Linked DNA regions of Homo sapiens: regions 2, 3, 4 and 5 are each linked to region 1. The links come from fine-mapping of genetic effects on gene expression. A gene starts in region 1. Each other region holds a variant in brackets. All regions are shown on one strand. Distances are from middle to middle.

Region 1 (5,197 bases):
ACCTTGGTTTCCTTATCTGTAAAATGGGCATCATACTATGCAGTAAGTACCTACCTAATAGGCTTGCTAGGAGTACTTGAGTTAAATACAAAGTGCTGAGAATAATGACGACACATTAAGGGTTATTTTGCATTTCAGCTATTATGATTATGTTAAACCATGTTTTGACTTCTTTTATCCCTTTCCAGTCCCCACCTGACCTCTTCCACTGCCTGCTTATTTGCCACTGAAAGCTGCCCCCCAAATGGCCTTCCAATCAGATCGTAAGGCTGTTTAACCATAATACCATTCTGAACAGTTTATGGTGCTGACTTCTCAAACTGAAGTCTTGTAGGTAGTTTGCAGTTGAATGCAATGTCACACCCCCTAACATTGTCAGGGAAAAGGTCATGTGCTTTGTTTCCATCCTTTGCACCAAATCCATGCTATCTTCAGGGAAGTGCAACCACCCAATGGTTCCTTTCCCAGACTTGACCCCATGCGGTTACCTATCTCTTCCCCTTGATGGGCCACCACTCTTTTCAGGAAAGAACATTTAATACAATGCAAGGTTTTAACCAATGGCTCACTTGGTTGGTGACAGCTTGGAAAAATCAGGTCTCAGGAGACAATCTGTGGTTACTTTTCTGGGAAGGGGAGTCGGGGTCCCCAGGTTTCATCATTCCTGGGCACATATAGGTAAGAGCGAACCACTACCCCTCCATCCCCCAAGAGAGCGCCTGACAGCATCCTTCAGCCCAGCAAAGCACAAGGCGCAGCACCAGATCTTGGGCTTCCCACTTCCCTCCGCCCATCTTACTTATCCAAGGTTCAGGTCTTTAAGTTGGGACCCTTTGGTTGCTGCTATTGAGCTGGGGAAAACTAGGGGGCAGAATCAGTCAATCTAACCAGCTGTTGGGGAAAGACAGCAGCTAGAGACCTAGTCAATCACGGTAAAGAGCCACGGGGCAGTAAGTTTCATTTCAAGAGAGGTTCAGGAATGGCTTGGTCAAGAGATTCAATCTCACCCAATCAATGAACAGCCCGCAGATAGTAACAATGCCACGCAGAACAGGATGGAGATCATTCACAAGTTTACCCTCCAAAAGTCAGACACCCTTAGAACAATCTCTGGCAAGTGCCATGTAATGAACCCTATCCTCAGACCAAACGTTTTCTCCCAAAGAACTGGCACAGCCACCAGCTTTGTCTCAGGAAATTCACTCCCCCAGTAGCCCAGGGCGGGATTTCTTGCCTACCCAGTCTGCCAGTCCGAGGCCCGCGCGCTTACCATTGGCGTTCTTGCCGCAGATGAGATGCTCATAGGGCTGCAAGACGCCCCAGAGCTCGGCGTCGTTGTTGATGACCATCTCCAGGGCCTCAGCAGACACCTCCCCGCCTCCGGCCCCTCCGCCATCAGGGCTGTGGCTGGCCATCACCCTGGCCCGGATCTCCTCCACCAGGTTCTCCATGCAGGCGGTGAGGGAGATGGCTGCGTACTCGTGGATGCGCACGGAGATTCGGGTGTCCACCATCCAGCGGAAAAAGCGACCCACTGAGAAGGTGAGGCCGCAGCGCGCGGACTTGCCCCGGCGCAGCCCGTCGCCGGCGCTCATGCTGTACAGGGACAGCGCCTTGACGGCTGCCAGCGCGCAGCTCTCGGCCAGCGCCCAGCTGTGCACCAGGCGCACGGCGCTCTGCACCTCAAAGCGGGTGCACTTGGCGTGCAGCACGCTCAGGCGCTGCGCCTCGCGGGCCACGCGGATCAGTGCCCTGCGGAGCAGCCCGGCCAGGCGCCTCACCGCCTCGGCGGAGAACTGGGGCAGCCGCCGGCCGCCAGCGCCTTTGCGGAGCACCCGGGCCACGTCTCCTTCGGTCCAGGGGAACTCCTCCAGCTCGGGGAGCCGCGGACAGCGCGAGAAGAGGTCGGCCACTTCGGGGTCCTCGGGCAGCACCGTGTTCACCGTGTCCCAGCTGTTGTGGCGGCTGTTCATGGAGCCGGAGTAGCACCACCAGGCCGCCCCGCGGTGCTGCTGCGCCGAAGAGTTGAGCGCCTGCGAGTTGGACTTGGAGGACGAGAGGCTGAGCGAGCGGCACGAGTCCCCGGCCCCATACCCGGAGTCCAAGGTCAAGTCCTCCAGCGTCTTCAGAGTCGAGCTGTACGTCCCGGCCATGGGGAGCCTGCCGAGGGCGGCGTCGCCGAGCGAGGGGCACTCACAACTCCATGCCCTCTTTCCCAAGTGGGCAGAAACAAGCTCTAGGCCCTCCGGGCCACCCTCCTTCCTCTCTGCGTCGCGGGGCTCGGCGGCCGCATTGCCTGCCCGGAGGCCGCGGGAAGGTGGCCGAGATCCGTGGCCAGCAGGAGCCCCACGCTCCCGGCGTCCCGACTCGCAGCTGCCACTGGAAAGAACCCCGTCGCTACCCCCCGGCACTCCCCCTTGTCCACCTCTAATTCCCACAAGCAGAGAGTCAGTCCTCCACAGAGAAGGAATCCCGGGAGAACAGGGCGGCGGCGGCAGAAGGAGGAGGCGGCGGCGCAGGGCGCAGGGCGCAGCGCGAGTCCGGGACCAGCCGGCGAGAAAGCGCTCTGCAAACTTCTGCGCTGCGCCGGCCGGCAGCACAGCTGGGTACCCGGCTGCGTCCGACATGCAAATAACCCCGGGCGGCTTACCAATCACCGGCCGCGATGGGCGGGGCTGCACCAATGATCTCCGAGGGGGCGGTCACTATGCAGATTTCACTCTGCCTCGGGTTAAACCCCGCGGCGAAGGAGGCGGGGCTGGAGGCCGAGGGTCGGGCACGCGGCTGGGATGGGGGTGGGGATGGGGGGGGATGGGGGGGATGGGGGGGTGGGGGAAGGGCGAGCCAGCCAACTGGGAGGTGGAGGTGGAGACCGGAAAGCAGCGGTCGAAACGATAGCTCCGGAGCTCACGATTTAAAGAAAAATGCAAAGGAAAAGCTACAGGGCGCTGCCACCTTCCCGCCACCCAGGCTTTGGGCGTTCGCTGCTCGCTTTCGAGCCCTCCGCAGCCAGGCGTCCTGGGGTTGGGGCCAGGAGAATGGGGAGGGCCCCATCCAGGCGCTCCACCTCTCCTCCACCTTCCGCCAGGCCCCTCCCGCAATCCGAGATGAAACGCTGGCTGTGTTTGGAGGGAGGAGGGAGTCCCTGCCTCTCTTTCCAAGTCCGTCTGGTTCCTTTGCGCTGCCGTCTAGGCTCCAATAAGGACAGAATTTCTTAACCTGGTATCTGATCAATGGACGGGCCCCAGGAAGCCTGTGAGTGCCTCCGCCCATTTGTGGTTTCACCTGCAGTTTTCTGAGTGCCACTATGGGGAAGGGGCACCAACTTTTGTCAGATTCTCAAGAGGATCCGTGACTTCCCTGTTACCTCTGTGTGACGATACCACTTGCTGTCAGGTGGGTCCTTTTTGTCCGAGATAGACAGTGTTCTTACAGGAAGAATGAGAAGAAGGTGGCAGAGCAGTCCCTCGCCCTGGGCTGAGCTCGGAACACCTAGCTGGATGCAGGTGTTCGCCTCCTAACGCGTGCCGGTGGGCGAGCCGTATGCCCCCGCGGGACCCAGTTCCTCCGGGGTACAATGAGTGGCTGACCTCCAGGCAGCGCCAGTGCCAACCTGCCTCCGGGCGGGTGTCCCAAACGGTCCGCCAGAGCGCTGTTGGTTCAGCAGTCCCATGCCCGGTGCAGGCATGTCCCGCCGCTGCCCTGTGGCTACTCACACGCACGTGCGCAAACGGACCTGTGCCCCCTCCAGTGGAACCGCAGGCTCAAGGCGGGGATTGTGCATTCGCTCTCCCCAAGTCAGCCTCCCCCACTCCTGAATGGCTCCTTTGTGTTGCATTTTACACAGTTCTGACCTTGGGCCGTGAGTTGGATATGAACTAGAAATGTCTGGTTTGTCTCTTTCCTTCTTAAATTAATGGCCTTTACCCCCGGTGAAACTGCTTTTTATTTGGCAGTTTCGCTTAATTTTGCCTTTCCGCGGGTCTTTATTTATGCAACATCGCCGCCCGATGGTTAGAATTGGGAACAGAGTCAAAGATGGAAGTACTGTAATACCAAAGACGCAAGTCAGCAGAGATCAAACTAACAAAGGAGAATGCAGTCACACTTTACAGACGTGAGATTAGAAATTAAAGTAGGCAATGAGGTCCAACTTGTCAAAAATACAAAAGTAAATTTTATGCAATTTAAAACTTTATTGGGGAAATATAATATTAAAGGCAATGTCGCCCTCTAATGGATATATTCAAAGGAAATGAATTTCAGAAAGGTTTCCCTGTCCCCCCTTTTCTTCGTTGTGCGCACCCATCAAACCTAAAGAGAATTACTTAACTGGAAATTTACAACGGGGAACTTACTGAATGAAAGGTTATTGGAGGAATCATCTGGAGTGGGAAAAAGAGCCTATGGGATTTATATTAATATATTCAAATTACTTGATGACTTAAAGTGTAGATAATCAAACATGCCTCCAACTGAATCTGAGAATCCTGTGAATGTTGACCTGCAACATGAAGATATATTATGCAAAATTCAGCCATGGGAAATGCTTCTGAACAAACAACTGAGTTTCTTTAATAAATAAGTTTCAAGGAAAGAAAGAGATGGAGAGAAGACCTACACATTTAAAGAGACTTGAAAGACATAATAACCAATTACAAGGTGTGGAACTTATGTGTATTTTGAATTTGTTTTAAAAAGCCAGTAAACATTTGACATTATGAAACCATTAGGAACACTGCCTCGATGTTTGCTCTTAAAGAATAACTGTTTTTTTTTTTTTGATGTGGTAATGGTAGTGTGGTTATATTTATCAAATGTTCTTATCTTTTAGAGACACATGCTGAAATAAGTGTTTTGTAGCCCTCAAGAGTTGGCTTCCTCAAGGAAAAAAGGAAGACAAATCCTCATGGAAAAATCTGGTAAAGGGACTAGGAAGTTAGGAAAGACTGTAGATAGATCTCTTGTCTTTCAAATTTTCCTCAGTCTTCTAGTCAGCCTGAGGACTGGCAGTACCAAGTAAACCCAGAATGTGTCTGTGTTTGTGTTTTGTGTGATATGGGAAAAAGAATAGGAGGAAGATAGATAGAGATGAATATATATATATATATATATATATATATATATATATATATATATCCAGCCATCTTAGAATGAACCAATTCTTTGATTTCAGTTCAACTTTTGGGAGTTGGCC
Region 2 (5,000 bases), 160 kb before region 1:
GAGGATTGCATGAGCCCAGGATGTCAAAGAGGCAGTGAGCTGAGATTGTGCCACTGCACTCCAGCCTGGGAGACAGAGCAAGACCCTGTTTCCAAGAAAACCCCCCAAATATGTTAACTCATTGGGTCCGCATACCTTACAGATGATTAAGAGCCTTGAAGAGGTTAAATGACTGGTTGAAGGTTATAAAAAGTGGCAAGGTAGATCTCAAATGCACGCCTTTGAATAGCAGGGCCCTCCTCAGATGGGGCTATTCTGGCTGGCTACGAAGTCATGACACCAGAGGTTTCTAGGCCCGACCCCCAATCAGAACTCTGGGAAGGGTTCCACACTCCTCCTGTTTTCATGTCCTGGATACCAGCAGGCTCCAAGCCTTCTGAGTGTGCCACCCTCCACAGAGGCGGAGACGTGCTGTGCAGGGCTGGGGAGAACGAGGCAAGAGGCCAGGATCTGAGGCTTAGCAAGCGGACCGCTCTGTGGACCAGTGGCCCTCTGCCATTCCCACTCTCTCTGCCTGGCCACTCCTCAAGGGTCTGGCTTCTTTGCTGCTGCTCACAGTAGATGCAGTCTGGAAGGGTGCCTGGGGGACCCCAAACCCTCCAGCAGCCCAGGTTCTGATGTGGAGAAATGGTCACCTCCTGTCGACCTCAGGCCCTCTGCACCTCTGACTGCATGTCTCCCTCTGTCTCCTCTACTTGATGACGCTGCCTTCCAGCAATTTGCTGGCAAGCGGGCGGCCCTCTTGCCTTCCTACGTGTCTGCGTAGTCTTTATCCTTACTGCCCCAGACCTCTCATTCCCCAGAAGGGTGATGGCTGAGGAGGTATATCCTCTGCCAAAGATTCTGTTCCAGCTAGCCCATCCCTCTGCCCCCAGGCACAACCAGCAAGGGCCACATCTAACCAGATGGTTGTCCTTTCTCCTCCAGACCTCAGAGGAAGGAGGCTCCCGATCTCCCTGGGCAACCTGGATCCCTGACAAGAGGCTCTTTCACTTTCTAAGCTTGATCTCCGGTGATGACACACCCTGCAGGGCAGCAGCTGTGACTAATTCTGTGTTTTAGACTCTGCCTTGTGCCTGGCTGGTGCCTGGGATGCAAAGCTGCCAGTGAGAAAGGCACCCTGGAAGGGTGCAGGGAGGCTCCAGCTGCAGAGCTTTCCCAGGATAGTGAGGGGGTGGGGCTGGAATGGCCCCAGAGAAGGTGGCCCCAAAGGCCAGGGCCCACCCAGCATGCCTCAGTGCTGTAGGATCAGGTCTCAGCAGCCAGCTGGGAAAGCCACAGCCTGGCACAGGGAAAGGCAAAGGCCTTGAGGTGAGAGAGACCTCAGGTTTGAATCCTGGCCTCGCCACTTATCAGCCAGGTACCCCGCGGCCTCCTGTACTCACTTGTGAAACGGAGGTAATGATAGCACCAAACTTGCTGAAGTTCTTTGGGCCTAGAAGTAGGTAGAAATGGGCTTTAAAAGAAGGGCGTATGTTATCTGACTTTGTCCTACCGGATAGAATTACTTAGCCCCATTTTACAGGTGAGGAGCCTAAGGCATGGAAGGGCCCTCTGAGCCCAGGCCTCTGCCCCAAAGCCTGTACTGTTTCTTGATGCACCAGGCTCACTGCAGGAGTAGATGAAAGGAGGTTAGAGGCTTCTCATTCCCTGCAAGGCTGCCCGCTCACCACTCTGAGTTCCTGCTGCTTCTGCCCCTCCCTCCTCCCACTGTCTCTTCTCCCAAACCAGAGCAGAGAGCTCTGGGGAGAAGGCCCCTTACGGAAAGATGTGAAGTCCCCACCAAACACTGCAGAAGCAGCAGGTGGCTTAGCAGGGAATGCCACAGTGAGCTCCACACAAAAGAGATGAACACACGTCCCTTCCCTTTGTCGCCATGGATGTGGTCACACATAGCCCCTAATTGAAGGAATCAGGGTACCTTTCTTTAAAGCAGAAATATGAGGACAGACTTGAGTGGTTCCATCAATGATGTCATGCTGCCAAACCCATATCACCAAACTGAGCTCCCTCTCCCATGTGTGCAAGGCAGTAGAGGAGGTCACTTAATCCCAAACAAACCCAGAGAGCCACCAATCCCCAAACAGACAGTCTCTACAGCCAGACAACCACGGTCACATTGAAATCAGGGGCTCCGTCCAATTCTGGCTGGGTGAACTCAGTCCGCCATGCTTCCAGGTGGGACAGAGGACGGGGCTTCAGGAGGATGAAGTGGAGCAAGAGACAGACGTCGCACATCCCCAAACTCACAAAAGCAAAGCTCTGCCACTCTGGAACCCTAGCAAACTCCAGCTACTATTTGCATCAGGAGAGGTTTTCCCCAGAGCTCTGGTGAGGGTATCAGGGTGCTGGGGCCTTGATGGGACATTGGCCCAGCCCAGCCTGCAGTAATGCTGTAAGCTCAGCGCTCCCAGGAAGGATCCCCACAGCCTCCAGGGCCTTCCCTGTCAGTGAGCCAGAGGGCAGCAGATCTGCTCAGCGACAGGAGCCAGGCCACCAGGGCGCCGTCGGGCTGTTGGCTCCCTCAGGTATTTTTAGGGTTGTCCTCCTTTCTGTGTCATAACTTAAAAATTTGGTTTTTTTTTTTTTTTCCTAATGGGGGTTCCAATTCCCCA[T/G]GTGTCTGATATTCATTTGAAATGATTCATGGAAAAATATCTTTGCTACCAAATTATTTGTGCTACAGATAGTGCGGTTTTTAAATAAATGGCTACGTAAACACATGCACGTGTGTCTACTACCATGCAAGCTCAGCTATTATAACCACATAGGGCTGTGCAACTCAGATCATGAAGAAACCCTGATGCTGTGTATTAGAGTACAGGGGGCTGGGAACCCTCCTGGGGGAAAGCCACAGGACATGACAAAGATGCCCGGCGGGGGGGGGGAGTGGGGGCGGGAGAAAGTGCCAGCAGAGGAATGACTGCCCCTGGGCCTATAGCCATGACAGCCTGAGGGCCCAGCAGCCAGGGCAACAGGCCTGAAGAAGGCGCCTGTCCTCCCAGTCACCTTTGTGTGAATGACCCGGCCTCAGCCCAGCACCTTACCAAACAGCAAGCAAGCCTCCTGCCTCTTCCTCCCAGATATCTTCCCTGCTCTTTTTCCTTCCCAGCTGACTCCTTCAACCACAACACTTTTCCACAAAGCAGGAACAGCTGGGGCTTAGGGCCTATGCTTTGGCCCCAGCTCCCGCCAAAGGTGTCTTTCAGGATGCCCAGGGCTCCACCTGCAGCCTTCTTGCTGTGTCAGGCCCAGGGTGGCCCTCCTCAGACTTGCATTTGCCCTCCAACTCCCAGAGAAGTAAAACAATGATGACATAAGGATACTAGTACTGATAACAGCAATGGTACCATTTACTGGGACCCTACTATGCGTGTACTGGGCCACTGCTGTTTTATATTCCTCTTAGTGACAGGAGGTACAGTGTAGTGGTTATGAGCCTGTGTCGTGGGGCCAGTTAGTCTCTCCAAGCCTCCACTTACTCATCTGTAAATGGGGCTCTGAAGAACACCTCTTTCTTGGTAGTGTGTGAATTAACTGAGCATCCGCCTGCAAACTGCTCAGCACAGTGCCTAGCACATAGTAAACACTCAGTAAATCCACCTTAGTGCCTTTGTTTTCTGGGGCACTGAGGAAGCAGACCTGGCTGTGGAGCCAGCTGTGGATCACAGAGCTGATGAGACTCAATGCCCCCCAAAGACAGCGGACAGCCAGGCAAGGGGACTGCAGAGCCCCTGGGACTTCCAATATTGAGGTCTCAGATCGTCTCCCTCCAGGTGGGGCACTGAGGCCCGTGGGCTCTGCCTTTCCTGGGCTTCACTGAGTGGTGAAATGTGTGTGGATGGGGCTTCCTAAACTGAGTGCAAGCCTTTCCCACTTCCTGGACCCTCAAACCCACAACTCTTGAGCCCATGGACAGACCTTACCTTAAGTGGCCAAGCAGTGGCCTCCATGTGAGGCTCATGCCAGCATATACAATGTTTGGTACGAGTTATAAAAAAAATATTATATTTTCCAGGTAGAAAATTTCAAAAGGCAGCCCTCAGAGAAAACCCATTAGAAAAGGTATCCTAAGACCGGGCGCGGTGGCTCACGCCTGTAATCCCAGCACTTTGGGAGGCCAAGGCGCGTGGATCACGAGATCAGGAGATCGAGACCATCCTTGCTAACACAGTGCAACCCCGTCTCTACTAAAAATACAAAAAAATTAGCCAGGCGTGGTGGCGGGCACCTGTAGTCCCAGCTACTCGGGAGGCTGAGGCAGGAGAATGGCGTGAACCTTGGAGGTGGAGCTTGCAGTGAGCCAAGATTGTGCCATTGCACTCCAGCCTGGGCAATAGAGCAAGACTCCGTCTAAAAAAAAAAGAAAAGGTATCCTGTCCTCAGGCTGACATGGCCCCACGTGCATCCCCTACTCATGCCCCTCATTGGGTTCTGTTGTGCAGTATACAACCTGCACATCTGTTCTTTGCAGCCTTGCTCCCAGCTAGGAAAGTGTTGGGACCCTCTAGTGAAAGTACCTGACTAGAAGCCCACAGGCTTGGGTCCAGGGGCTATTCAACCACTAACCTGCTGGAGATCAGAGAGCTGCCAGGGCCAGGATAGTCTCCTGTGTTAAATGAATGGATGGGGCAAAACACACCCAGGACCCCTCATAACAATGACGGCAGCAATGATCATTTGATCACTTTTGAATGGGATAAACCCATGAAAAGAGGTGACAGCTACCACTGGCCAAGGGCCAGTTCCCACCTAGCCCCCATCCTACATGCTTTTACTCAGAGCACTAACCTTTCTAGGTGGGTGTGACTATCTCATTTTATAACAAGGCAGCTGAATTTCAGAGAGCCCAGTGAGCTCATGCCAGACTGGGCACAGAGGCAGAAGCACACGTTCTGAGCCTCAGTGGCCCCATGCTGCATCAGCTCAGAGGAAAAAAAAATCCCACTGCACACCAGTGCAGGCCTTCATCCATCGGAATTCCTGGGCCACCTCCTCACAGG
Region 3 (5,000 bases), 120 kb before region 1:
AAAGGACATTAGGTAAAAACTAAGGAAATCCTAAAGAAGTATGAACTTTAGTTAATAATGTTAATAGGGGAAACGGTGTGGGGTATCTGGAAACTTTCTGTAATACTCTTGCGACTTTCATGTAAATCTAAAATTGTTCTTATGCTGGGAGTGGTGGCTCATGCCTGTAATCCCAGCACTTGGGGAGGCCTAGGTGGGTGGATCATTTGAGGTCAGGAGTTCAAGACCAGCCTGGCCAACATGGTGAAACCCCATCTCTACTAAAAATACAAAAAATTAGCAGGGCATAGTGGTGCACGCCTGTAGCGCCAGCTACTTGGGAGGCAGAGGCATGAGAAGCACTTGAACCTGGGAAGCGGAGGCTGCAGTGAGCTGAGATCGCGCCACTGCACTCCAGCCTGGGCAATAGAGGGAGACTCTGTCTCAAAAAAAAAAAAAAAAATTGTTCTTAAATGAGACATTTAAATCCTAGAGAAAAGGAATATCCCAGAAGCACCATCACGAGGCCTAACCTAATCCCCAGCAAGGGACCTCTCGAGACCTTCTGAAGCCCCACCACAATCTGTAGCCTTCTCTCACAGACCACTTAGTATCTACTCATTTACATATCCATTTGTTTGCAAAGTATTTATCGAGCCCTTGGCCTTGGGTGCAGGGTGGTGGTTGGTCAGGGGGCATGGTGGCTCCCACTTGTAATCTCAGAACTTTGGGAGACCAAGGTGGGAGGATCACTGAGACCAGTTTGGGCAACATAGTGGGACTCTGTCTCTTAAAAAAAAATACATAATAATAAATAAAATTAGCCAGGCGTAATGGTCCCAGCTTCTTGGGAAGCTGAGGTGGGAGGATCTCTTGAGCCTGTGAGGTCAGGGCTGCAGTGAGCCATAATCACACCACTGCACTCCAGCCTGGGTGACAGAAGGAGACTCTGTCTCAAAAAACCCCCTAACCTCCCCCCAAAACCCCAAATGCCCCGCAAAACATATACTACCCCCTCCATCATGCTGGGAGCCACTGAAGGGAGACACCCTGTCATAGTGGTTTGGTCCTCCAGTGGCTAGGGAGGTAGCTGTTTGCTAAGTGAATGTTAAGTCCATCCCAGTCGCTTCCTGCTAACAGTCCACCACGGGAAGTTAGGCATTTAATAATGAGGACACAATTAGGACACCTGGGCTTGGTGCATGAGGATTTTTCTTTTTATTTTTTTGAAGACAAAGCAAAACAAAAAAACAACCCTTTCTTTTTGAGACAGGGTCTTGCTCTATTACCCAGGCAGAAGGGAAATGGCATGATCATGGCTCACTGCAGCTTTTTTTTTTTTTGAGACAGAGCCTCCTTGTTGCCCAGGCTGAAGTGCAGTGGTGTGACCTTGGCTCACTGCAGCCTCCGCCTCCCAGGTCACTGCAGCGTTAAACTCCTGGGCTCAAGCAATCCTCCTGCCTCAGCCTCCCAATTAGCTGGGACCACAGGGGTACACCACCACACCCAGCTAAGTTTCTAAAAATGTTTTGTAGAGACAAGGTCTCACCATGTTGCTCAGGCTGGTCTTGAAATCCTGGGCTCAAGCAATCTGCCTTGGCCTTGCAAAGTGCTGGGATTATAGGCATGAACCACTGTACCTGGCCCACCTTTTTTTTTTTTATTATAAAGGTAATTATGATTATTTTTTAAAAATCAGAAAGGAATAATGAATAAAGTTTCTTTTAATACTACCTCCCAGAGATAACTATTATTAATATATTATAATTTTTCTTCAAATAGGCTTTTAGTACAAATAGTACATGTACAAATACATGTACTAACCTATCAATTTTTTAAAATCACAAACCGAATTTGAGAAACAGGAACATAATGAAATTATTTTTCACCTAATGCTGAATCCTGTATTTTGTGGACATCTTTTCAGGTCAGTGTGTTTGGATATATATTTCTTTTTAAGACCTACACAGTTTCCAGGGTCATCGCTCCCTCAAATTTGAATTGTCAGCTTGATCCCTCTCAGAAGACTAGAGAAACCATACATCCCAGGGCACCTGAAGCAGGGCCAAGCTGGGCTGCAGGTATTTTCCACAGTGCTCTGGCAAGGCCTTCTCCGTGGCTCAGTTAGGGGGTTTCCCTTCTCCCCTCCCCTCCCCTGTTGGGGTGGGGGCAAGGGTAAGAGCGTCTCCCTGGAGGAGGTGCCTAAAGCAGGCTGTGAGTCACTCAGATGAGCTTCCGGGTGAAGTCATGCTGAGAAGCTATTTGCAGACACCTTACTCAAGGAGGCCTAAGGAAAGCATGGGGGGATGCCATCTCAAGCGAGAAATGGAGAACTTTTAGATTCTCCCCTCCCTGGCCTTTCTAGAGCAGAGGCTGTAACCGGAATATCAGAG[A/T]CACAGTAAATTACCTGGGATTTCCCCATCAGGGAGATTCCTGGGTTACTCTCACTGATAACAAGACTAACTACTCACACCCAGGGTCCCAGGGTGAGGCTGGGCAAGGGAGGCACCAGGGCTGGTTCCACTGCTCAGAGGAGAAATGCAATTCTCTCCTGTGCCTCAAAGTCCAGCATTGTGAGAACACCTCGGATGCCAGCTCTGGCTCCGCCTCTCACAAAACCTAGGTAAAGTGCTTTGTGCGGAATCTTTTCCTTATGAAAAGGCAGGGCTACCAGGCAGTGCCAAGCCCTGGGACAGTCAGGTAACTAATTGCCTATTGCGACTCCCAGCTTACAGGGTAATGCTACCTGCTCCTGCTTAACCTCAGAGACTGGGAATCCCAGTTCTGCCACAGAAGAGGGCCCTTTTAGTTTCCCTGAAGCACTTATACAGAGATTATTGTGTTTATTTTATTTATTTATTTATTTATTTTTGAGACAGAGTCTCGCTCCTTCGCCCAGGCTGGAGTGCAGTGGCGCTATCTTGGCTCACTGCAAGCTCTGCCTCCTGGGTTCACGCCATTCTCCTGCCTCAGCCTCCCAAGTAGCTAGGACTATAGGCGCCCGCCACGGCGCCTGGCTAATTTTTTTTTTGTATTTTTAGTAGAGATGGGGTTTCACCGTGTTAGCCAGGATGGTCTCGATCTCCTGACCTTGTGATCCGCCTGCCTTAGCCACCCAAAGTGCTGGGATTACAGGCGTGAGCCACCGTGCCCGGCCGAGATTATTGTGTTTATTAATTTGCTTACTTGCTCAGTATCTGGTGCCCCTACTCCCTCTAAAATGCAAGCTCTGCATAGCAGGGATTGCCTGAAAAATGTCAGCCACATAGATGCTCAAGACATTTCTAGAAAAGAAATGAATGCCATCAGCCAAATATCTGACCATGACCCGGGGTAAGTACTTAACCTCTAGACCTCAGTTTCTTCATCTGTAAAGCGGATATGGTTTCTTCTCTGTAGTGGTTATGAACATATCGCATAAAGCACTAAACCCAATGCCTGACACATAGCAAGAGTTCAATAAAAGGGCTCTCTCTGTTATCCTCAGAGATGACAAGGATCTTGAACCCCACAATAAACTGCTACATCTCCAATACTGAATGAATTAGCCTCTGTTCAATAAGCCCCACAGGAAGGGGAGCGGGGGAGGTCAAAAGGAATTGGTGCCTGTGATCCCACCTTCCTAAGAGGATTTGCCTATCAGAGCCATCCAGGACCTGATTGGGGATCTCCTTCTGGCTTTTAAGCCACAAGCCATGAATACTGCTGACACCACTCCTATGAAGTAGCAACAAGTGATCCATCGCTAATTGCACTTTGCAGAGCTTTTTCTGATCCATGCTAGAGGCATTAATTAGCTGCAGGAGGTCAGCGCTAGCTAAGTGAACACTCTTTGTGCCCCAGGTAAGGAGACCAAGCTGAGAAGGCAGAGCAGAGCCTGTTCCTCCTTGAAACAAACTTTCAGGCAGCAAAGCCCTAAACAGAGACAGCTGTGTGGTCTGGGCAAGCACAGCGCCTAGCTTCCCTGCTGCCCACACTCAGAAGCAGGCTGAGCGCCAGACGGGGAGAGATGCTGCTGGGTTCTGGGGTGGACAGACATCGTGGACATCGGGTGCAGGCTGGTGGGTACACCCCTGCAAGGAAGAGAAGGGTAAAGGCCAGGTGGGAAGTCCGTGGATATTCTTGTTGGCAGAGGGAGATTAAAAATAGAAAAAAGAGACAGGGCTGGAGAAAGAGGAGGGGAGAAAAAGTATTAAAATAGAGTTTTTTCCCTGGAAAGAAGAGGTCATTTGGAACAGTCACTTCATATGAAAGGTAAAAAAATGTGTTTTGAAATAGCTGAGAAAATATGGAAATTTTCTTCTTCCTTTGCTCTTGTTGTAGAAGGGTAGAGAATTCACACTTGTCTTCTACCTCCAGAAGGCACAGGGCAGAAAACACAGGACTCTCTTTAATGTGCCTTTTAAGACAAAAAATTCTTTCTAATTTGGGGTGGGTCACTCGACAGGTTTCAGAGAGGTTATTTCTAGGGCTGGAGAAGGACTCTGTGCCGCCAGTTTTCCCTAACAGCAGCATTTTAAGCAGCAGATTTTAGGTAGCTTGAAGCCAGAGGACCCCATTCTCTTTTGATGCCTCCCCGGCACCCCCTCCCCTCAATCCACTGATTTACTCCGGGAGGCCTCAGGGCCCAAGGCCAGGCCTTGATCTCCTGGGGAAGCAGAAGTGATTGAGATGCCGATACATCAGGCCTGTTAGCCAGGCCAGGAGGGAGACAGGAGGATAAAGAGACAAAGAACCGAGGAGGGTAGATAAACGAAATCGCATCAGCCGCAAAGCTGCTCGCTCCTAGATAGATTAGCACCTTCCTCTGCCCTAATCATTCCAGACAGCCTCTGCAGCTTGGGTGTGCCCAGCCATCTGGGAACCCTCAGGGATTCGGACTCTATTTTGGCAGCTATTATCTGTGGGGGAAATAATTCTCTCCTTGGTGAACCTCAAGTTTATGAGAAAGTTGAATGTATGCAAAAAGACAAAATCATTTAAACTGTACAAGGGAAGCAAGCTGTTTAGAAGTATTTTAT
Region 4 (5,000 bases), 27 kb before region 1:
CCGGGCAGGCATTCAAGGAACCCTTATTGGCTCTCAACATTCACACTATCTGGATCTAGTTAGTTGTAGGTACTTCAAAAGGAACATTTTATAACACCCCTCCTTGTCTGGTTTAGTTCTGAAATGGAAAGCAAATTGGCCACTTAGCCATCCAGAATCCTGAAAACACGTGGCCTCTCATATGGTCACACCTTCTATTTGCATCTACAGCTGATTAAAAGCAAAAATCTACGAGATGAACTTTTCAATAATAATTGTCAACACTCAGTTTAGACCAAACAGTTGAACTAAAACTTCAAGTATGTCAAGGTAGCACTGGGTCAGAGATAGACTAGAAGAGAAGTAACATTTAAATTCATCTGGCACAATTTAAGATCCCATTAAGACAGAAATAAACCCAGCCTGCAAGCTATTCAGCACCTAAATGGCTCACTCCTTCAAACCTGTAATCTGAATATTTAAGACACCCTCTAAAGAAGTGCTTCTCTTTCAGAGAGGAAAGGTTTCATTAGAACAAATAAACACTGAAGTCAGTGAATATAACAAATAATTGCTCTAACAGCAGCAACCAAAAGATACTCTCATTAATGGTCTGTTGAAACTCTTCAAATAAAGTTACCCTTGCCCTACTTAATGTGGTGATGTGTTTCTCTAGAAGACTGGTTTTTCCACTCCACTTCCTTCCAGATCCATCTTCCATCCCACTTCCCACTCCACCCCCCTGCCCAGATCACCCAGCATCTTCTCTCCACAGCATCCAATCTTCCTCTTCTATCCACAGCTGACCTACAGTTCTCAGGCCATGAGGGCTCCCAACCTTCCCTCTCAGCATGGGGTGGAGCATGTGGTTATGGACTACAATGACTGGTTCAATGATGGGGCACATGACCTAGGCCAGGCCCATCAGAGCCAACGAGACTCAAGTCCAGAATCTTTGAGCTATCACAAGAAGCCAACTGGTCCCCTTTCCTACTCAGCTTCAAAGCTGAGGCTGCTGCAGCTAGTTTGCAACCACAGGAGAAAGGCTGCCAGATAATGGAGCCAACCCAGGAGCAGAATCCAGAAGCAAGAGTAAGCAAAAGAAACAGGGTCCCAAAGGTACCAGTGAACCTCTGAGTCAAAGTGTACCTGAAGCCAATCCTACTTTGGGACTTTTAAACAAGCCAGTAAATTCAACTGTGTCTGTAGCCTGCAGAGTCCTGACACTGAAATGGTAAACAGAAGTGTACTTAGAAGCTACTTTATGGTTTCTTAGCTTTAAATTACTTAGGAAATGAGAATGATGCACTGGATTCCCAGAACTCCGTCCCATCTCTGTGCCCAAGTATGAGTCCAGGACTGGCTATTTCTGACCAAGTGGTTGCTGGCTGGGAAGTGCCAGGGACTTCACTTGGGGAATACTGCTTAGATAAACAGGTCTTGGGTAACGACAAAGCACTGATCTCAGGACTCCTGACTTCTGGTCCCTGCTGGGTCACTCCTTGGCCATGGGACCTCAAGTAAACCCTTCTGCACTTCATTTTCTTCTAAAGGAAAACAAAGCCCTCTGCCTCTAACACAGGGAGAATAGGAGCCAGTACTGCCTGGTATTTTGGGCTTTGAGTTGGGTAGATCTAGGTTCAAATCCCTAGTCTACCCTAGATCCAAGATTAGGATTTGGGTCAAGAGGCCCAATCTCTCTGACCCTCAGTTTCCTTCTTTGTAAAATGGGAACAAATCAGAGTATTGTTGCACAGAGTTATTTTAAGAATTAAATAAGGTAAAGTTTATAAAGTGTTTAGTAAGGTGTCTGATATATAGAAAGACACAATAAATGGTAGCTATAATAGCTGTGAGATCAAATGAGAAAGAATGTGAAAGTGCTTTGTAAAAACCATGAGAAACTGTACCTGTATTAGGGATTATTGTCATCACCTCTCATTCCTAAAATGGCCATGGTTATAACATCATAGTGTGGGGTAAAGGCAATAAACTTATGAAATAAATTCAATTGATAAATTATACCCAATCCAGCAGAGAGATAGTTGTCAATGAGGCATAGGGGTGCAAACCCCATGCTATAACTGTCATTTCATCAACAGTTTAGCACACTCCCAAGAAATATGTTAGGGTGGTTCATGGAAAATGCTATCAATAGTGACCTGTTAAATGTTCCTCTGGAGGCCTGGAACTGTTCCCAAGCTATGTGCATGCAGTCAGATCCCTTTGGAACTTTTCCAGAGCTACATCTGCAAAAGTACAGGTAAGATCCCCTTCCTGATTCTCCAACTTCTTTTAACAACTTCATGGGCAGGATGCAAATCTGCCTCTTTATGAATGAGAAATTTCAGTTGCTGAGCTTGGCAGCAGAGATTTCCAAGAAATCCAGCCTTCCAGTGGACCCCCTCCTATGTTCCACCAGCACATCCCATAAAACGAGGGAGTTCTGGGTTTCAAATGGGCTGCTTGCAGGAAAGAGACAGCTGTGGTAAAACCAAAAAGATATTCCTTCCACGTGTTGAAGAATAAAGTCCTCCTGATTGAAGGGACTTTGGCTTCTTTTTAGTTTGGAGGCATTTTAAAAAGCATACATGACAAGCCTAAGAAGTGCTTACCACAAGCATATAAAGGGTCACTTCAACTCATGTAAGTATTGCTTAAC[G/A]CGGAAAAAATTAAAGCTTGAAAAATCAGGACCATAAAACGCAAGGAGTAAGGAGTTGTGGAAAAACAACCCCATCTGAGGTTGCAATACTCCTTCAGGAAAATAGATACACTGTTCTCTTACTCTCTTTTCTAACTGTAGCCTATATACCAGCCATGTGTATTTTGGACTCCTTCCCATCCTACCATGATTTCCTGTCTAAGTCTGGGTCCCATGGTAACTGGAGCAATTTGGCATGCTGGCCCCAAACACCATGACTGGCCACGTGAGGGATGCCAAGTGGGTATCTCTTCCATAACAAACATCTCTCTCTTCTGGCTCTGTAATGAGGTTACTCTCTTACTCATAAACTCTTACTAATAAAGTCTTCAGTTGATAAATGAATCTTCCCATCCAGCCTCTTTCACTCACCCAGAAGAAGTGATAATCTTTTGCAGAGCCAGAAGATCTATGTATTCAAGTTTACATTGCACGGGGTAGAAGGGTTGCAAGACTGCGGGAAAAAGAAAAATTAAAAACCCCAGCTTTGCTGCTAGCAAAAGTGTTAAGTAGTTCAGTAAAAGCCAAACCTCATTTATGGAGTGAGCAGAAGTTATCCTTGGAAATGTATTTCCTGGTGAGAGTCCCAAGGATATGGTGACATGAGTCACAGGTTTTACAAGCCTGAGGGCTAACTTCTATTTATCTTTCAGATCTCAACACAAATGACCACCTCTGGGACTATGACAACTCCATGCCCCCAATCTGATTTTGTAGCCATGGTCTTCCCAGTATAGTATGCAATAGCCTGTATTACAACTGCCTGTTTGATTCTTGCTTTCGGACCCAGAGCTCCTGAAGGGCAGGACTGTAACTTTTCGCCTCTATTCTGATGCAGCACTTAACGTAAAGGAGGCATCTGTAAATGCATGTGATGTGGCTGTAGGCAGACCTAGCTCTAGATCACATCACAAATTTGGAGCATTCACCCTCTAACCTGTCCCAGCCTCCTGCATCTTCACTGCCACCTACCCACTGCACAGTTCTCCCTTCTCCTCCATGAAGACCTACCTTAAGGAAAGGCTACGCTAGTAATCATTCAGACTAAGGTCAAATGGAATCCTACACGCAAAATTATTCCCTCCGAAAATGTAACCCCCACACTCACACTCAGGGTATTATGCACCCATCCACCCTTGACCTAAGGGAATTAAATTATAATTGGATAATTTTAGCCAATCACAGGGGTAGATATTTTGGTTGGGTTTTTTGAGGAGGAGCTAGAAAAACTGGCTCCTCCAGCTGCTTTTGAAAGCACACAGTGACCCACTCCTGGCCCTCAGCAAACCCAGCATCCAGGGACCACCCCCCGAGCCCAGGGGAGTTGGTCCAGCCTAGCCCGCTGTCCAGCAATGCCTCTGTTGATTTTGCTAATAGAGCAAACAGACCCTCTTTGAAAAAGAGGCAAAGGCAGGAGAACTCTGCTTTCCTGCCCATTTCCTCTGCCTTATTAAGCAAGAAGAACTGGTTTCAGTTAAAAAAAAAAAAAAATCCTGAAAGCCACTGATGGAACAGTCTCTGAAGTGCGTTCAGGGAGTCACAGGACATGGAAGGAAATGGAGGGCACAGGAACATGAATTATGGTGAGCACTGGGGAAATGCCTGCTTCGTCTGGGTGAGAAACAGGCAAAGACTTTGAGGTCAACAATGGCCATTCATAAACAAACAGCTTTAACTTATTAAGCATCAAGGGTTTTACAAATATTTCTCGAATGATTTTACATGTGTTGTCTCAGTTGATTCTCCTAATCCAACCCTATAGCACAAGTACTATCACTTTAAAAAATAAACTGAGGCTCAGAAAGGTTTAATAATTTACCTACCCCCAGAAGTTCAAGAACAGGTAAAAGTAATTGAAGGTGGCAGGAGTCAGAATAATAGTTATGTGGGGTAGACACTAACAAGGAATGGCCATGAGGGTGTCTCCTAGGCAGGAGTGTTTTAAATCTTGATCTTGACCTGGGTAAGTTACATAGCGGCATGTCTGGGTAAAAATTCATCAAGCTGTGCATTTAAGACTCTGGTCTTTATGCATCCCAATCTATACTAAAGGAGAAACAAAACAAAACAAATAAATAAGAAAAACAAACAAACAAACAAAATTCCCAAAAACTAAAAATAAAGGAAAAACAGGCTGGGTATGGTGGCTCAAGCCTGTAATTCCAGCACTTTGGGAGGCCAAGGTGGGCAGATCACTTGAGGTTAAGAGTTCAAGACCAGCCTGGCCAACATGGCAAAACCCTGTCTCTACTTAAAATAAACAAATTAGCTGGGCATCGTGGTGCTCACCTGTAATCCCAGCTACTCGGGAGGCTGAGGC
Region 5 (5,000 bases), 49 kb before region 1:
TTCTCCTTATACAACATTGTAGACCCAACAGGGGAGGACAAAGCTTGAAGCAAATGGCTCCCACTAGCTGCCTGGAAAGTTTGATTTTTTTTTTTTTTTTTTTTTTTTTTTTTGAGACGGAGTCTTCTCTGTCATCTAGGCTGGAGTGCAGTGGCACAATCTCGGCTCACTGCAACCTCTGCTTCCCAGGTTCCAGGGATTCTCCTGCCTCAGCCTCCTGAGTAACTGGGATTACAGGCGTGCACCACCACACCTGGTTAATTTTTGTATTTTTAGTAGAGGTGGGGTTTCACCATGTTGGCCAGGATGGTCTCGAACTCCTGACCTCAGCTGATCTGCCTGCCTCAAGCTCCCAAAGTGCTATGATTACAGGCGTGAGCCACTGCGCCCAGACTGGAAAGCTGTTTTTTAAAAAGACATTCCAAGCTGGATGTGGTGGTGTGTGCCTGTAGTCCCAGCTACTGAGGAGGCTGAGGTGGGAGGATGGCTTGAGCCCAGGAGTGTGAGGCTGCAGTGAGCCATGACTGCACCACTGCACTCCAGCCTGGGTGACACAGTGAGACCCTGTCTCTAAAAAAAAAATAAGTAAAACCGAGAAAAGAAAGATTGGAAGGTACACCACTTTCTTTAGTTATCTTTTCCTTTTTATAGACAAATATTACTTTATAGAATTCTTCAAAGAAGTTATTTGGGAAATTCTGCTGTGTGAAAGTTCTGATGAGTTCAGCACATAGCAGGTACTTAAAGACGCCTCTGGACTGAAGTGAAGCTTGCTTACTAGTTTTCCAGCCATAGCAAGCAATGACAGCTAGCACCATGTCAGGAAACTTAAAAAAAAAAAAAAAAAAAAAAGAAAGAAAAAAAGCAGACGAACTTTAAGAAGACTCAGTAAAGGGCCACTGCGTGTAGGGTACACTTCCCTGCATGTCTCCCTGAATGAATTCGTCTGTTAGATCCTGGTATCCTAAGTCATAAGGACAACCCAAGTCACCTAGGCTCCTGCAGGCCTGTGCTTCTGTGGGTGAGAGCCCTCCATCCTGGTATTGTGAGAACTGTTCAACAGCAACCAATGCTCCTAGTGCTCCCTGAAGGTAACAGGTTGCTAGGTCACAAAAAGGAGGAGTCCAGCACAATTAGGTCACTTCTCTAAAACACCTGTGAGATCAGAACTGAGAAGTGACCAGCCACATTCTCTCAACGAGATCACATGTTTATCCCTACATCTTCCCCCACCTCCTCATATGCATAACCTGTATTACCACTACATCCTAAAATGCTTGGAGAACAGCTCACACCCCCAGCACTGAGCTCTTCAGCAGTCTCCACCATCCAGAATGCAGCCAATGAGCAGGAAATGAAGGAAAGAGTTTGAGCAGTCAACAGAAACGCCATAGACCCTGTTCATGGCTCTCCGAGAGAGGGCACTACAAATTCTTTCCTTTCACACATTTTCCAAAGTGTAATTTCCCTGGGGACACAGATTGTGCTCTCTTGGTCTGATTCTTATGTTAATGGTTTGAGTCTGGCCTCATAGTTAGGTGACTCTCTGTTTTTTTTTTTTTTTGAGACGGAGTCTCGCTCTGTCGCCCAGGCTGGAGTGCAGTGGTGCGATCTCGGCTCACCGCAACCTCCGTCTCCCGGGTTTAAGCGATTCTCCTGCCTCAGCCTCCCACATAGCTGGGATCACAGGCACGCGCCACCATGCCCAGCTAATTTTTGTATTTTTAGTAGAGACAGGGTTTCACCATGTTGGTCAGGCTGGTCTCGAACTCCTGACCTCGTGACTGCCTGCCTTGGCCTCCCAAAGTGCTGGGATTACAGGCGTGAGCCACTGCACCCAGCTAGATGACTCTCTAAGTCACAGCATGATGGAATCAAAAGGTGGATTTTTTGGAATCAGGACCCTTTGGGCAAGTTACTTCACTTCTCTGTGTCTGGGCCTCCTCATCTGCAAAACGGGGATAACAACAGTAGCTCCGACCTCCTAGGTTACTGTGAGGATTACATGTGTGGACACATGTGATGAGCTTGGAATACAGGATACAGGGCAAGCATGCAATGGATGTTTGTGATTATTAGTCATTGCTACTATATGTAAATTTCCAGCCCATCACCTGACACATAACAAGTCCTCAAAACAGCCTACTGACTGAAAGAAGATGGCTGATTTTATTTCTCAGGCCACAGCTTGTTTAAAGCAGCAAGAAATGACAGCTAACAGCATTAGAAGGGCTTAAACATTTACAACACAAAAAGCAGGCATAAAAACTTAAGACTGCAGTGTGGGGCCATTTAATATTGGGACCAACATTCGATCACATCTTGGGGTCACTCCCTGAGGGCACAAGCACTGTAAGAATACTCATGGATCTTGAGTCATCAAGAACATAGTCACATCTATGCAGCTCACTCACTGTTTAAGAAAACAGGAAACTGGCCAGGTGCAATGGCTCACACCTGTAATCCCAGTACTTTGAGAAGCCGAGGCGGGTGGATCACCTGAGGTCAGGAGTTCAAGACCAGCCTGGCCAACATGGTGAAACCCTGTCTGCACTAAAAATACAAAAATTAGCTGGGCGTGGGTGGCAGGCGCCTGTATTCCCAGCTACTCAGGAGGTTAAGGCAGGAGAATTGCTTGAACCCAAGAGGTGGAAGTTGCAGTGAGCTGAGATCATGCCATTGCACTCCAGCTTGGGCAATGAGAGGAAACTGTCTCAAAAAAAAAAAAAAAAAAAGAAAA[G/A]AGAAAGAAAGAAAAGCAAAGAAAACAGGAAACTGTGTGAAATGCTTTTCAAATGCTTTGGTCTCGAAGAATTAAAATTTTATTGCAATGACAATGTTTTGGCACTTACAAGGCATGAATGTGCTGCAATCCTGAATGCCTCTATGGTCTGATAGGCTGAGATTTCAGCAGAGGCAGATTTACTACGAAGCCAAAGAAGCGTAAACTTCAGGCAGCCTCTACTTATACAGGTTGCTTCCAAAACTTCTGGAGGGGGCCTGGCAATGTGTTCACATGGACGTGTGTTTTTTTGCCAAAGTAAGATTAGCCACTGTCAGTTGATACCATTGTCTCTTTCCACTGCAACTGACCACATGTTCCCATGCATTGGGTGGGCATTTTGGGGACCTTGTTGAAGGAAATTGAGTTGGGGATACAGTCAGCTGGGTTCAGTGGTTAGCAGTCACATCCACTTAGAGTTAATACATCACTAACAATCCCTTATGCCAATGACTTCCAGAAGGACTCCTATTGCAAAATGTGTTATGACACAAGGGTGCAGGTCAGAGGTTATATCAAGATATGAACGGGCATTACCGTGCTCAACACCAGAGGCAGTGCTGGGAGCAGAGGAGAAACGAAACTCATGACGGACAGAGTCAGAAGCTAGGCTTGTGGAAAGTTCTTCCAAATCTCACTGCTCAGAAATGAAAGAAACGTGGCCACGATTTCCCCAAATTTGACAACAATCCTAATACTTGACATCACCAATAATGAGTTATGAAGTTAAAAAAAAAAATTTTCAAAACCATTGGAGAAAAGAAAAACAAACTTTTGGTTAACTATTTTAAAGGGAAGTCTCAATTGTTCCTTTAGAAAACAGTACAGAATCATTGTCATAGGAAGAGGTGATCAGAGTCAAAAAAAAAAAGATGGGGAAAAACAGTATTGTCAAGGTGTGTCAGGCAGTTAAAGTTATTGATTTGTGATATGTGTGTCAGCTTTAACAAATTTTTCTCATTTTAAATAAATATTCACTTTTATATCTCATTGTGCATTTGTAATTTTGGATTCTTTTCCTTAACTGTATTAACTTCAGGTGTCAGGAAACCCGGATCACTCCTGACAGCGGCCTAGCGATCACTTGGGCTTGACCTTGACATTGAGTAACAGTGATAGTAACTTCTATTACATTGAGCAATCGCCCTGCATCTAAAAGGGGGAGGAGCACAGTATGTATGTCTCCTGCTCATCAATGACAGGAGCTCAGGGAGGAAAGCACTGAGAGCCCAGGAAGGGCTCGAGAAGTAATCCCTCATCCATATGCAGATGACTTTCAAATCCTTATCTTCAGATCCATTATCCCATTTTCACTTTACCACTTTATTATTCCACAGATACCCTAAACTTGGCCCCTGTCCTGTGTCTCTCCCTCTCTCAATTAAAGCTCCAGCATCTACCCTGCTGTGAGTGCCAGAAATGTGAGTCCCGATTCACCTACCCCTCCCTGCAACCCTCTGAGTTTCGAATCAACTTCCAAATCTGTCACTGCTGCTTCTCTCTACCGCCACCCTCACGTCCCCAAGCTTGCCTTGCCTCTCCCCTGAAGTACTCCATGGTGCCCTTGTGGGTTTCCTCCTCACACACCTATCCCTCCAGCCAGAGCAAGCCCTCCTTTCAGAGCACAGTTCTGACCACATCAACCTCCGCTGCATCCCTCCAGCCTTTAAGTTCCTGTTCTTTTCAGCCTCAGGGCCCCTCACACATGCTGTTCCCTTTCCTTGCACCTCCCTCACCCCCCAGCACCCTCCCTCTGCTAGTCAAGTCCTCCTACCCAACTGGGTCACGGACCCCTGTTTAAGAAGGAACATGGCTCTCCTCCGTGGGTGGACTGCATGGAGGTTATGCTCTTTAATGTGCGTCTCCTTCATTAATCCACTGATGGTCACCTGCATCTCATATCCTTAGTCCCTTGCACAGCTCCCCACACGACACACTCAAAAACAGCTGTGAGAGCAAATGTGTGCATTTGTGCTGTTTTTGGAAGGGAAGCAATTTCCCCGGTGGTCCCTCTCTTCAGCCAAGGTCCTGATGGAGGATACCAGTCAGACTTGTGCTGGTCCTGAGGAAACCACAGAGAGATGCCGTTTCTCCATGTCAAAGGGGCTGTATGCACAGCCTGACCCCTTCCACTGCCTTCAGTTTCTGACCTTCTTGGCCTTGGGAGAAGAGGCGGCTCCTCAGAGCTCTAGCTTTCACTGGCTCCAGGATGCTGCATCTC

Which allele goes with the higher level. Alleles are on the strand shown, and positions count from the first base shown. SD is a standard deviation of normalised expression in the study named. Not every link is listed here.
In carriers of allele G in region 2, the expression in aorta of the gene that starts at base 2,580 in region 1 tends to be higher than with T alone (small effect, 0.22 SD a copy in GTEx).
For the expression in monocytes after Pam3CSK4 of the gene that starts at base 2,580 in region 1, allele A in region 3 goes with a lower level than allele T (large effect, 0.93 SD a copy in Quach 2016).

What was found.
Region 2: its variant is fine-mapped to the expression of ABTB2 in aorta (GTEx, PIP 0.91).
Region 3: its variant is fine-mapped to the expression of ABTB2 in monocytes after Pam3CSK4 (Quach 2016, PIP 0.95). The same link has a PIP of 0.9 or more in monocytes, monocytes after LPS and monocytes after R848.
Region 4: its variant is fine-mapped to the expression of ABTB2 in lung (TOPMed, PIP 0.93).
Region 5: its variant is fine-mapped to the expression of ABTB2 in blood mononuclear cells (TOPMed, PIP 0.98).

Annotation. Positions count from the first base shown.
Region 1 is chr11:34,355,431-34,360,627 of GRCh38, forward strand. ABTB2 (ankyrin repeat and BTB domain containing 2) reads right to left here and starts at 2,580. Exons shown (of 17, transcript NM_145804.3): 1 at 1,271-2,580. The coding sequence starts at 2,153. RefSeq lists an enhancer at 1,506-1,615 and a silencer at 2,566-2,765.
Region 2 is chr11:34,192,201-34,197,200 of GRCh38, forward strand. The region is part of intron 3 of ABTB2 (ankyrin repeat and BTB domain containing 2); the gene reads right to left. Among named protein-coding and RNA genes, the nearest start is that of NAT10, 89 kb to the left of the region's middle. RefSeq lists a silencer at 250-435 and enhancers at 904-1,789, 1,957-2,785. The variant T/G (reference allele first, on the strand shown) is at 2,616.
Region 3 is chr11:34,232,025-34,237,024 of GRCh38, forward strand. All of the region lies in intron 1 of ABTB2 (ankyrin repeat and BTB domain containing 2), which reads right to left. Among named protein-coding and RNA genes, the nearest start is that of ABTB2, 120 kb to the right of the region's middle. RefSeq lists enhancers at 1,977-2,501, 2,178-2,507. The variant A/T (reference allele first, on the strand shown) is at 2,373.
Region 4 is chr11:34,328,662-34,333,661 of GRCh38, forward strand. All of the region lies in intron 1 of ABTB2 (ankyrin repeat and BTB domain containing 2), which reads right to left. Among named protein-coding and RNA genes, the nearest start is that of ABTB2, 27 kb to the right of the region's middle. RefSeq lists a silencer at 727-927. The variant G/A (reference allele first, on the strand shown) is at 2,642.
Region 5 is chr11:34,306,153-34,311,152 of GRCh38, forward strand. The region is part of intron 1 of ABTB2 (ankyrin repeat and BTB domain containing 2); the gene reads right to left. Among named protein-coding and RNA genes, the nearest start is that of ABTB2, 49 kb to the right of the region's middle. The variant G/A (reference allele first, on the strand shown) is at 2,741.